3 linked regions of the Homo sapiens genome follow. The protein of the gene in region 1 purifies or fractionates together with the protein of each later gene. This does not show direct contact. Each region holds a gene or a part of one and is shown in the gene's direction. Other genes may lie near its edges.

Region 1 (4,980 bases):
GCTTCCTTTCCTGCCTCTTCTCTCACAGCATTCCTTCTCATGCACCCAACAGGCCCCACTGGAGGTCTGTCTCCCTGCCCCCAGGCTATCTCGCCCTGCCCTCTGAGCCCAGACCACCTTCTCTTTTCCATGCCCCAGGCATGCAGGCCTGGCTTTGCTCTGTTCTGGGGCGTGGGCATGCTTTCCTCAGTCGAGCTGCTTGCACCCACACCTCGTCCCTTCTGCCACCTGGGAATTCTAAGAGCCTGGAGTAAGCATGCCAGGCCCTTTGTTTCTCCTCCCACCTGCACTCCACCCCTAGGACAAAGCCTGACATTTGGGGGTACACAGTAAACACAGGATTAAATATGTGCACAGCCATGGTTGCCTCAAGCCTCTAGTGACTCATATCATTAGTTTGGAGATGTAACGAAGGAAGATCAGCTCAAATATTCTCTTGGAGAACCCAGTATGCATTTTTACAGTTTCCCTCTCTTAGTCCTCACAGTGATACATTCTTTGTATTCAAACATTTGGGGAAACTGGCACTCAGAGAGGTTTTAAGTTGCCCAAGGTCCCAGAGCCTGTAATCAACAAGGTGGGGATTAAAATCCAGGTCTGACAAAGCCCTTGATCTCTCTGCTGCTCTGTAGATCAGCTGATGTAGCCTGGTGGCTCCTCGTAGCAACATGTGACCTTAGAAGGAGGCACATGTGAGACGAAGTCTTTAATTCAGGCATGCATTCATTCATTGAGTGCCAAGTGACAGGTATTTTATGGTGATGCCATACTCAGAGCTTGCAGTCTAGCTAGCAATACCAATTTCATTTTACTGAGAGCTTATGATGTGCCCAGCACTGCACTGAATGCTGAATTGAGTCACACACAACCCCCTAAGCAACGGGATGAAGCAGGAGCACGTTTCTCTCCGTGTAACCGGTAAAGATACTGATGCTAAGAGAAGCTAAGGAGCTGGCCCAAGAAACCCAGCCAGCACGTGGCAAGGCCCATGCAGAATCCAGCCCAAGCCCCTGGACCCAGCCACCACTCCGCTGCCTGCACTCAGGTGGGCCTGGCTTATGACAAATATCACCTTTCCCTGTTCCCGCATTAGGACCTCACTGAGACCTTGAAGTCTGAGCTCAGTGGCAAGTTTGAGAGGCTCATTGTGGCCCTTATGTATCCGCCATACAGATACGAAGCCAAGGAGCTGCATGACGCCATGAAGGTAACCAGGCAGACAGGGCAGGGGAGTGGCAGGGGTGCTCACATGACTGGGTAGGGGCAATGCGGGGACCGGGAACCTACAGCCCAGAGCTCCCCTTGAGCCACTGTTTGGAATGGCCATATGGGCCATAACTGGGCCCAGTGAGCAGGCAGCCTGCTGCTCAGACTGCACCCAACACCTGGAGTCACTGGTGCCTGATTGACACGTTGAGTGGCCGTGATGAAGCCAAAATCAGTACTTCTCAGAACCTCACGAGCTCAGGTGTACAGTGGTATTGGAAACCCACCTCTACAGTCCCAGGCACAGCCCCTTGGGTTTCCCTTTACCTCTCACTACTCTTTGCTTTTGCAGATTAATAAGGATGGGGACCCAGTAACTATAGTCATTTTGTTTGGAAAGACACTTGCTGCATGGGCACTGCCAGGCATTTTACACCCACGCTCCCTAATCTATCTTTGGCGCAGGGGAGGCTTCTTATTCCTGTTTATGGATCGGGATGCTTAGGCTCCAGGACATGGAGCAGCCTGTCTGAGACCACCCAGCTAAGGAGGGAGAGCTGAGACAGGGCTTCCCCGTCACAGCACTTGCCCTCAATGTTCATCACTGAAGACAAGCATGTGATTTTCTCATCACATCCTCCCACTTCAAGTGGGGCAGGGCAGTGAGGTCCTTCCTGAGGCTCAGGCATCTTGAGAAAAGAAGGTGTGGACAGAGCAGAAGGTCATGGCAGAGCACTCCAGCAGGCAGAGGTTTCTGTCCACAGGGCTTAGGAACCAAGGAGGGTGTCATCATTGAGATCCTGGCCTCTCGGACCAAGAACCAGCTGCGGGAGATAATGAAGGCGTATGAGGAAGGTAAGGGGTGGCACAGATGGAGGGGCTCAGGAGTGGCCACAAGCTTTGGCAGCCTGGCAGGGAACAAGGATCAAGAATTAACCTGGGCCACACTAGAAAGGACCCTTTGGGGACTTTTTTACCCACAGGTGCTGAGCACCTACCGTATGCCAAGATCTGTGCCTGATGGTGACACTGAACATGATTCAGACTTGATCTGTAAGCTCACCAGCTCCTCTTACAGGGGAGAGAGGCCTGTGACCAACTAAAATCTCTGCCCTTGAGGACTGTGGTAGTAGGGGGTGTGGACCCCAGGCTAGCAGAGGCCAGTCAGTCCTCCACATCATGTACCTAGTGGGGAGTTTTCCTGGAGGCTTTGGCTTTGCCAAGCCTTGAGATGAAATGGAGCTTGGTTGGCAGCCCCTAGCCTGGCTCTCTGACCTGGTCCATCTTGTGCTTTGAGCTTGGTTGGGTACGCATGTCGCTTCTAGTTGTGAAGCACCACCCAGGCGACAGCCACTTGGACACCCGGGCATTGCATCCATGCCCTGTGCCAAGGACTTTCTTTCCTAGAAGGCTTTAATAAGGAGAAGTATGGGGAACAGGGCTGGAAGGAGGAAAGCAGGCCCCGGGTAGGCTGTGGGCCTCTGCTTGTGCCTCATGGTCCTGTTTCCCTGCAGACTATGGGTCCAGCCTGGAGGAGGACATCCAAGCAGACACAAGTGGCTACCTGGAGAGGATCCTGGTGTGCCTCCTGCAGGTGTCACAGCCTAGGCTCTTGGGAGTGCCTTGGTTTGGGAGTCCCAACAGCTCCACCCCAGGGAGCAGCCCTTGAATAGCGCCACAAGAGTCAGGGTATGGGCATGGGATAGCCCAGCAGCCAGGGCTCATTGGGTGTGTCTCAGCATGGTTAGAGGGTCCCAACTGCAGAGCCCCCACACTTGTCCTTACTCAGCCATGTGAGAGCATCCTGGAAGCGGGAGGAGAGCAGGTCCTTCGTGCAGACCTCATGCCAGGCACTTTGCTTACCTTAGCTCACTGAATCCGCCAAGCCTTATGAGGCAGTCCTTACCACCCCCGTTGTACAAATGAGGAAACCAAGGGCTGAAGAGAATAACTGGCTTGTCGAAGTTTCCACAGCCAAAGAGCAGCAGAGCCATGCCTACCCTCCAAGCCCAGGATCCCCCCTGTGCCCTTAATGCTCTGGTCAGCTGGCCTGCCTTACAGAGCCACCTCCTCTGTTCCTAGGGCAGCAGGGATGATGTGAGCAGCTTTGTGGACCCGGCACTGGCCCTCCAAGACGCACAGGTGAGGCTGCGCCCAGCCGGCCATGTGGCCCCACCCCCTGCCATCTGGACTCCGGCTCCTCTGCCCACGGGGGCTTTCTCTGACACTGGGCTGGGACCCACCCAGCTCAGCTCCCTATAGGCCTTTGTCCTGTGGTGTCTGGGGAGGAGAGTGAGGGTGTTGGGAGACTCGGGAGGAAGGAGTGTGACTTGGGGGTGGGGGAGCACTAAAGCTCTGTCCTGGCAGGAACAGCCCATGAACCCGGGGGCGCTAGGCCCCAGTGCTGGACACAGGTGTCCGGGTCTCTGTAGGTCTGCCTGCTGGCAGAGGGAAGTCTGGGGACCAGGCAGTTCCTAGAGCAGCTTGTGGCCCAGGATAGAGAAAATATTCTAAGCCAGAGCTGCTAGAGAAAGGGGAGCTCCCTGTCAGAGACGACCAAGCAGGGGAGCATGCTGGCCTGGCAGAGTGGACAGGGCCAGGCCATGGCCACAGCTCTGGGACTCTGGGGCTCAGTCCCTCACCTCCCTGGTCTCCCTCACTGGCTTATTGTGGGTGTCCCAATGCTAGGATCTGTATGCGGCAGGCGAGAAGATTCGTGGGACTGATGAGATGAAATTCATCACCATCCTGTGCACGCGCAGTGCCACTCACCTGCTGAGAGGTACCAGGGAGGGAGGGGCTGGGGCCGGGGCCACAGGGGTGTCCTGGCCATGAGCCTCTCCCTCGTGCTTCTGCCTTGTCAAGTCTAGAGTTAGGGAGAGAGCCAGGGAGCCCAGGACTGTTTCCCCAGCCACCAGTGGGAGGTCAGGGCGGCAAATTGATGTGCGATCTCTGATCCGAGACACTGAGGGGCATCACGAGGAGGTCTGACCATCCCCTGAGCAGAGCCCTCTCCACAGTGTTTGAAGAGTATGAGAAAATTGCCAACAAGAGCATTGAGGACAGCATCAAGAGTGAGACCCATGGCTCACTGGAGGAGGCCATGCTCACTGTGGGTAAGAGCTCAGACTTGCACGTTTTTCAGGCCACAGGGCTCACCGTGGGGCAGCACCAAAGAACAAAGGGCCTAGGGATGCGACCACAAGAGAAAGAATCCCTGTGTCACCTTCACGGGATGTCCCCCCGACTCACACTCTGCCTGTCTCCCTCACCCAGGGACTGCTCCACCTCTAGAGTCCCAGTGTGTGCTGCCAAAGATTGTTCTCTGTGCTGCCCACGTGGTGCCCAGTGCTGTGTGGGTGTGTCTGCATGAGTGTGTGTGTGCGTGAGAGTGTGTGTGCCTGAGGGTGTGTGTGCATGACTGTGGGTGGAATGTGAGTGTGTGTGTGTGAGACAGACAGTGTGTGTGTGTGCGCACACAAATGCATACGCCAGTGATTATGCCAGCCCCAACCCTGTGTGTACTCATGGCAGCCATGCAGGGAGCACTCTGGCTGTGGTTGTGAAGCCCTGGCCAGCACAAAGTCATCTTTCTGGACATGAACCAGGGGCCTGGCCCCTGCCTTCATTGCCAGTTGAAGAAACAGTGATGTGTGGCTTGAGTCCAAACTGAGTGACGGATGGTCTGATGCTGAGAAACACTGGGGATCTTCCCCACAGCAGGAAGTCAGGGCCACTCAGGAGGACCCACTCCAGAGCTCTCATGGGTTCCAG
Region 2 (3,848 bases), about 53 Mb from region 1:
CTGGTACCGGTTGTTCCTTTCCATATTTAGTGCTTCCTTCAGGAGCTCTTGTAGGGCAGGCCTCGTGGTGACAAAATCTCTCAGCATTTGCTTGTCTGTAAAGGATTTTATTTCTCCTTCACTTATGAAGCTTAGTTTGGCTGGATATGAAATTCTGGGTTGAAAATTCTTTTCTTTAAGAATGTTGAATATTGGCCCCCACTCTCTTCTGGCTTGTAGAGTTTCTGCTGAGAGATCAGCTGTTAGTGTGACGGGCTTCCCTTTGTGGGTAACCCGACCTTTCTTTCTGGCTGCCTTTAACATTTTTTCCTTCATTTCAACTTTGGTGAATCTGACAATTATGTGTCTTGGAGTTGCTGTTTTTGAGGAGTATCTTCATGGCATTCTCTGTATTTCCTGAATTTGAATGTTGGCCTGCCTTGCTAGGTTGGGGAACTTCTCCTGGATAATATCCTGCAGAGTGTTTTCCAACTTGGTTCCATTCTCCCCGTCACTTTCAGGTACACCAATCAGATGTAGATTTGGTCTTTTCACATAGTCGCATATTTCTTGGAGGCTTTGTTCGTTTCTTTTTATTCTTTTTTCTCTAAACTTCTCTTCTCACTTCATTTCATTCATTTGATCTTCCATCACTGATACCCTTTCTTCCAGTTGATCGAATCGGCTACTGAAGCTTGTGCATTCGTCATGTAGTTCTCGTGCCATGGTTTTCAGCTCCATCAGGTCCTTTAAGTACTTCTCTGCATTGGTTATTCTAGTTAGCCATTCGTCTAATCTTTTTTCAAGGTTTTTAACTTCTTTGCGATGGGTTCGAACTTCCTCCTTTAGCTCAGAGAAGTTTGATCTTCTGAAGCCTTCTTCTCTCAACTCGTCAAAGTCATTCTCCATCCAGCTTTGTTCCGTTGCTGGTGAGGAGCTGCATTCCTTTGTAGGAGGAGAGGCACTCTGATTTTTAGAATTTTCAGTTTTTCTGCTCTGTTTTTTCCCCATCTTTGTGGTTTTATCTACCTTTGGTCTCTGATGATGTACAGATGGGTTTTTGGTGTGGATGTCCTTTCTGTTTGTTAGTTATCCTTTTAACAGTCAGGACCCTCAGCTGCAGATCTGTTGGAGTTTGCTGGCGGTCCACTCCAGACCTTGTTTGCCTGGGTATCAGCAGCGGAGGCTGCAGAACGGGGAATATTGGTGAACAGCAAATGTTGCTGCCTGATCGTTCCTCTGGAAGTTTCGTCTCAGAGGGGTACCCGGCCATGTGAGGTATCAGTCTGCCCCTACTGGGGGGTGCCTCCCAGTTAGGCTACTCAGGGGTCAGGGACCCACTTGAGGAGGCAGGCTGTCCGTTCTTAGATCTGAAACTCCGTGCTGAGAGAACCACTACTCTCTTCAAAGCTGTCAGACAGGGACATTTAAGTCTGCAGAGGTTTCTGCTGCCTTTTGTTCGAGCTCTGAGCCTTTCTTCTGCTTGGAAGGCCTCACCATTCCCAGGCTGCTGTCTTAGTTCACTAATAGCCTCTTAATTTACCTTCCTGCCTCTAGTCTCTTCCCTGTTTTAGTACATTCTGCATGCTGCAGCTAGGATGACCTTCCTTGGCAAAACAAGCTACTCATGTCACCTGTTCCCACTCCCCACCCCCACCGCCCATAGCTCCCCCATTGCCTGTAGGGTAAAATCCAGACTTTGAGCTTGGCATGCAGTGAAAGTAGGTGACAGGTGACAGTCTTCATCCTGTTCTTACAGTTGCTGATTTCCCCTCACTCCACTAGAGGTCCTGACATTCTAAGAGTCTTGCTGTTCTCTAGACCTACTGGGCCCTGTCAAGACTAAGAACCTTTGCCTGGCCCTTCTCTCCATTTGGAATGCCCTCCCTTATTGCTCTAGCTGTCCAGTCCCCACCTCTAAGTCCTTCAAGAGCTGATCAAGGGTCACTTCCACACTGAATCCTTAGGTATTTTAGGCAGAGCTTGTTGTTTAAGCTCTCTGAGTTATCACAGGACTTTGTTCACAGCTTGGGAATAACAGTACTTAACTGTTCTTACTATAATGGATAATTTTATAAGTCTTCATCTCCCACAAGGCCCTAACTTTCCCCAGGAGAGTGATCATTGCTTATTTACCTTGCAGATTTTCAGCATTTGGCTCCTATCCGGGTACCTCAGGTTCCAAAGGTTTGGATTCATTCATTCCTTTAGTCATCAGATGCCCACTACTAGAGCCAGGCACTGTTCTAGATGCTGGAGCACAGCAGTGACTCAAACACACAGAATCCCCTGCCCTTGCATTCAGTTTCGGGGAGAGGAACAGACTCTAAATGTAATCTTTTTGACTATATCAGTAAGAAAATGATGTAGTATACTAAAGATGATAAATGCTATAAAAATGGAGCAGGAGGTGGCATGTTAGGAATTCTAGGAGTGGATACAGTTTTAACTAGGGTGGTTATGATAGAAATAGAAATGACATTTGAGCCAAAACTTAAAGACGAGACATAAATGAAAGAATGAGTGAACAAGTAAACCAACAGTAATTGTTTCTTCCCTTAGATTTTTCTTCTCCAGATTCAACATTTCCAGATCCTTTACCCATTTTGAGGAGACCTATTTTCTAGACTCCTCACTGCCTTGTATTACTTTTCCACTTTCAGATCTTAGGATCCAGACAGAAATGTCGATTTTTCATCTCTGGCATAGTGCTGTTTCAGCTTTGAGATTACTGAGCATTGTAGGAAGGAGGGCTCATGGGTCATAACTCATTGTCACATCATGACATCCCACTCTCGCTTTGATTGCCTCTAGGCGACTTGGGGCTTCTGCTGTGGCTCAGATCTTTTCACCACTGTCTTCTTTCTTCATCTAGTTCAGCACATGCTTATGTAGTACCATGTGCCAGATGCCGTGAGAGATGCTGGGGGCACCCAGATGAATGCAGCATGGCTCTGGCCACAGGCAGCTCCTGGTTGCTCTCCTATTCCTCATGGTGAAGTCATAGTATCGGCAAATTGTTATCTCAGACAAGGGTTCTAGAATCCAGCAATCTTATGCTGACATGTCCAACAGAGGCCTGCTCTATCTAGCTTCATACCAAGTCTTCCTGGATTTCCCTTGTTCTGGATACTCTTGTTTACCCAGGTCCAGTTGCCTGGCTCCTTGAGAAGTCTGTACTTACTTCCTTTGATGTTATGATTTTCCTTTATAACAAGTACAGGACATTCTTAGGCTGTAGGACAATTTGCCAAAAATCAGTTCACAGAATGACCACATTGCTATATTATTGATTCACCAAAAACTTGTTTCTGTTAGTTGCTGATGTTTAGAGCAACTTGTGTTTCACTGAAGCCATCCAGTATTTAATAGATTTTTAGGGAGTGATAACTTCTTGAGAATTTGATATTTCAAGTGTCATATATGTCATGAATGTCAAGGATTAGTTAATGTGGAGTGGGTTTATCTCTTCTAAGCACATTTTTAATGTATTCTACTGATTTTTAAAAAAATGAATTTGCTTTCTGTAGTGGGAGAGAAAGGGTGGAGTGAAAAGTTGAGAACAGGAAATGAAAAATTATGCCTGGGAATGTTTCCACTGGTATCTATGCATCTATCGTGTTTCCAGAAGTTAAAACCATGTTCAAGGGAGGTCTTGCTCATTTGCTTAGGAAGTATTAGCACTCTAGAGTGGCTTAGGTATCTGCAATGTGAAGTCATGTATGAAACTGACATTCAACTTAGCTGGATGACAAATCCATAAAAAATAAATGCACATTTGTGTTATATCATCTTGGTAGCAATTTGCATAAAGAATTCAGGTAAACCACAATGTGGGGGCAAAACTTTTAAAGTAATAGCAAGGGATG
Region 3 (3,848 bases), on another chromosome or scaffold:
GATTTACATTTTACCAAGCTCTTCAGGTGGTTTGGCAACAAAGCCAGCGTTGAAAACCATAGTCTAGATCAGGGTTGCAAACTCCTGTCTGTGGGCCAAATCCAGTCCACTGCACATTTCTGGAGTAAAGTTTTATTGGAACACAGTTACACTCAATTGGCTGTGTATTGTCTCTGGCAGCTTTTACTCCAGAGCTGAGTAATTGAGACAGAGACTATGTGGGCTACGAAACCTCAAATATCACTATGTGGCCCTTTGCAGAAGTTTGCTGACCCTGGTCTAGATCCGCGGAAAGGCCCATATCCACCTTGTTTTGAGAGGACTCAGGGCCGAGCTCAGGGTTTCCAGCCAGCTTTGTGCGGAGAGAAGGTGGAGCTGCCCCCTATTTCAATCCAGCCTCTCACCTGGGCAGCATGAGAGGCTTCTCCCGGGGGCTTCTGGCCCTGCTGCTGCCAGAAGCAACCCCCTTCTCCTCCATGGACACCCACTTTCCATGCTTAGGAAGAACCCTGCTTCCTCCGGGGAGTCATCTCTGGCCTCTCCAGCCCACAGTGTCTCTTGTGCTGCCATCCATGGATCTGAAGACAGACGGGCCCCTCTGTGTGCCAGGGCTGGAGGATGCTGGAGATACAAGTGTGCAGAATTGTGGATTAATGGCTCTCAGGGCTGCCATGGAGAAATGCATGAAGATGCAAGGGGAGGAAGGAGGATTCTTTCCTCTTGGAGGTGTTGGGGCCAGAAAGACTTCAGTAAGGGGGTGGCATGGCCTCAGGGAAGGGACTTCCAGGAGGAGGGGGAGGCATGCAGAAAGAGGGCCGAGGTTAGGGTCCCTGTCTGTCGTCCCACCCACGGTCCTCAGGGTGAGTCTCCATGGGCGCTGCCATCAGCCCTGGGCCAGTGCCTGGCTGGGGTCTTCCCATCATGTTGCTAGCAGCTCCTCTGGCTAAGGTCAAGGTACCCGAGGGCAGGAGCCTTATTTAGCCTGTCTCTGCCTCCTTTTAACTGTGCGACATCCTCTCTGGACCTCTGTTTTTCTTATCTATAAAATGGTACAATTCCTCTCTAAGGTTGTGTTTCTTCAGTTGCAGGATTCTATCAGCTTTTCTCCTAAGCTCCACATTTCAACTAAAGTGTTTTTGGCTGTTCTCTAGGAAAACCTGCCCCGTTCTCACGCTGGGCACCCGTTCACATGGTCCCCTTTGCAGGAGATGCCCTCCCCAGTTGGACTGCTGAGGGCTTTACCACTACCGTGGCCTCAGTTTCTCGCCTGCACGTTGAGGAGGCTGGCTGGCCCGCGTGAGTCCACAGGCCCTTCCCAGAAGCCCCCGCCTCTCTGTTCGGTCCCCTGCAGAGTCCCTGCGATGACGGAGGAGGTGGCCCGGGAAGCCCTCCTCAGCTTTGTGGACTCTAAGTGCTGCTACAGCAGCACGGTGGCTGGAGACCTCGTCATCCAGGAGCTGAAGCGGCAGACCCTCTGCAGGGTGAGAGGCCAGGGCCGGTGGGGGGCCTTGGCCGGGGGGCTGGGGAGCTGGGGGCTTTGGGACAGTGGAGGCCTGTTTGTGTGATGTGGCCAGGGGAAAGGAGTCCTGGGGGCAGTGTGTTTGAGTGTGAGCGGTGGTGATGTTGAATCCCATCTGCAACTTGACTTGTCTGTGGCTGTGAGTGATAATAAAAAGAACAAGTGTCAGGCCGGGTGCGGCGGCTCATGCCTGTAATCCCAGCACTTTGGGAGGCCGAGGTGGGTGGATCACCTGAGGTCAGGATCACCTGAGGTGAGTCAGGTTAGACCAGCCTGACTAACATGGTGAAACCCCATCTGTACTAAAAATACAAAAATTAGCCGGGCGTGGTGGTGGGTGCCTGTAGTTCCAGCTACTCGGGAGGCTGAGGCAGGACAATTGCTTGAAACTGGGAGGCGGAGGTTGTGGTGAGCTGAGATGGTGCCATTGCACTCCAGCCTGGGCAACAAGAACGAAACTCCAACTCAAAAAAAAAAAAAAAAAAGGCGTCATCAAACACCACTGACAGGCTTGAACATGCCAGGCATCATAGAACGCATGCTACACACACGCCTTGTCAAATCCTCATGGCTGCCCTATACGGTAGCATCACTGTCACTGGTTTACAGACGAGAAATTGGAAATTTAAAGAGGCAAAGTGATTTTCCCAAGAAGATGCAGCTAGAAGTGACAGAGGTGAGATTCAAACTCAGATTTGGTAGCCTCAAAGCCTATGTCCTCACTTCATACTTCCACAAGGCATGGGCTGAGAGAGGTTCATCTACCTGCCACTAGACTTCAGCTCCCTCTGCCTCCCCCAGATCATGACTGTGCCAAGAAATTCTTTATTCATTGCTGCAGGGAAGTCCTGCCTCTGACAGGCACTTCTGTCTCCTGTATTGACAGAGCAGAGGAGCAGCTTTTACAGTCACATTTTCTAGTGCTGCTCATCCAGCCACCCTCTGAGGAGCACATAATCACTTGCAGGCAGTGGTTAGAGCAGGAATCTGAAAGAAGAGGCCACTGTGTGGCTGTGTGACCTTGGGCAAGTCAGCTGACCTCTCTGAGCCTCCATTTCCTCACATGTAAAAGGAGAGGGCAAGTGATGTCCAAGACCTCTTCCCATTCTGTCACCCTATGGATGAAGATCAAGAAGGAAGATCTTGATATCAGGGAGATAAATTCCTCCATAAGGGAAATCTCAAAGCCATAGATTCCAGGGACCTCCATCTATCAAAGACAGCTACTGCTCTGAAGCTTGTCTCATAGAATCTTTGTATAAATTCATGGGGAACTGAATTAGCTCTAGTTTGAGCCTGTCAGGGGAGATTTCCTGGGGCTGGCTGACTTCCCTGCAGACATGGGGGCACGTGGAACAGAAATCGCTGTTGTCAGCCAGTTCCAGCAGCCGAGGGTGTTGTGCATGGACCTCTCAGTTTCCCCACTGAGCCCTGGGAGGGTAACAGCTTCATCTTTTTGCATAATGCTCTGTCTTCATAAGGGGCACGAGTGTGAACATGCTGTTTTTTTCCTTTTAGTACCGTCTGGAGACCTTTAGTGAATCCAGGATAAGCGAGTGGACATTTCAACCCTTTACTAGTAAGTGAATTGTCTGAAATTAGTTTAACTGGGGGCAAATAAGTCAGGGTGCTGGTGGAAAATATCAGGACTTGGCTCAGGCACTCATCTCAAATAAGATGGTCTTCTGCTTGGAGCCTTGGCTTCCTTACCCCCTGCAAAATGAGAGGATGGACTTTCATCTCAGAGACTTTCCAGTGCTTATCTTAGGAAATGCTTCCTGCCCAGGAAGCAGGAGGTCCTGAAAAAGCCAAGCATTTGCTTTTGCTACAGTCTGGTGCTGCCACACGGGGCCGGGCTGTAAAGCAGCATGCGTGTCTAAGCATTCACCTACACCCCCTCATGCCACCCCTAATTCCTCCTAAGCTTCTAGGCCCCTGTGCTCCCCATTCGCCTTGCCACCCCACCTTCTGCTGAGCCCCCACTGGAGGCCTAAGCTTCTCTCTTTGGGAAGATCTATGTCCTCCTTGTTTTCCCTAACAGACCGCTCAGGTCCATTCTTCAAGACTCAGCTCACGTGTCACTTCTTTTAAGAAGCTTTTCAGGATTTCTCCTCCTGCTGCTCCCCTCCCAGCAGGATGGGCCAGTCTTCTGAGTTTTCAGAGCCCTTTATGCAACTCTTGTCCAAAGCATGTATCATATCCTATCATATCTTATTGTGATGGTGTGCTGTCTGTCTCCTTGAACAGAGCAAGAGGAAGAAGATGGGATGGTGAAGGGGATGGTGATGATAATGGTGACAATTCTTGTGTGTCATCCCCTCAGTATGTG

What was found. Proteins that work in one complex are often made in the same cells at the same time.
Region 2: the proteins of ANXA8L1 (region 1) and GOT1 purify together in Homo sapiens (co-immunoprecipitation; one large-scale study listed by IntAct). This does not show direct contact.
Region 3: the proteins of ANXA8L1 (region 1) and SSUH2 purify together in Homo sapiens (co-immunoprecipitation; one large-scale study listed by IntAct). This does not show direct contact.

The regions. Positions count from the first base shown.
Region 1 is NC_000010.11:46,381,486-46,386,465, forward strand, and holds part of ANXA8L1 (annexin A8-like protein 1), read left to right. Parts: intron 1-1,093; coding exon 1,094-1,207; intron 1,208-1,970; coding exon 1,971-2,061; intron 2,062-2,720; coding exon 2,721-2,800; intron 2,801-3,288; coding exon 3,289-3,348; intron 3,349-3,894; coding exon 3,895-3,988; intron 3,989-4,226; coding exon 4,227-4,322; intron 4,323-4,980.
Region 2 is NC_000010.11:99,410,125-99,413,972, reverse strand, and holds part of GOT1 (aspartate aminotransferase, cytoplasmic), read left to right. Parts: intron 1-3,848. UniProt on the Homo sapiens protein: Biosynthesis of L-glutamate from L-aspartate or L-cysteine. Important regulator of levels of glutamate, the major excitatory neurotransmitter of the vertebrate central nervous system. Acts as a scavenger of glutamate in brain neuroprotection.
Region 3 is NC_000003.12:8,631,299-8,635,146, reverse strand, and holds part of SSUH2 (protein SSUH2 homolog), read left to right. Parts: intron 1-501; coding exon of another isoform or gene 502-749; intron 750-1,151; coding exon of another isoform or gene 1,152-1,351; coding exon 1,352-1,481; intron 1,482-3,037; coding exon 3,038-3,098; intron 3,099-3,848. UniProt on the Homo sapiens protein: Plays a role in odontogenesis.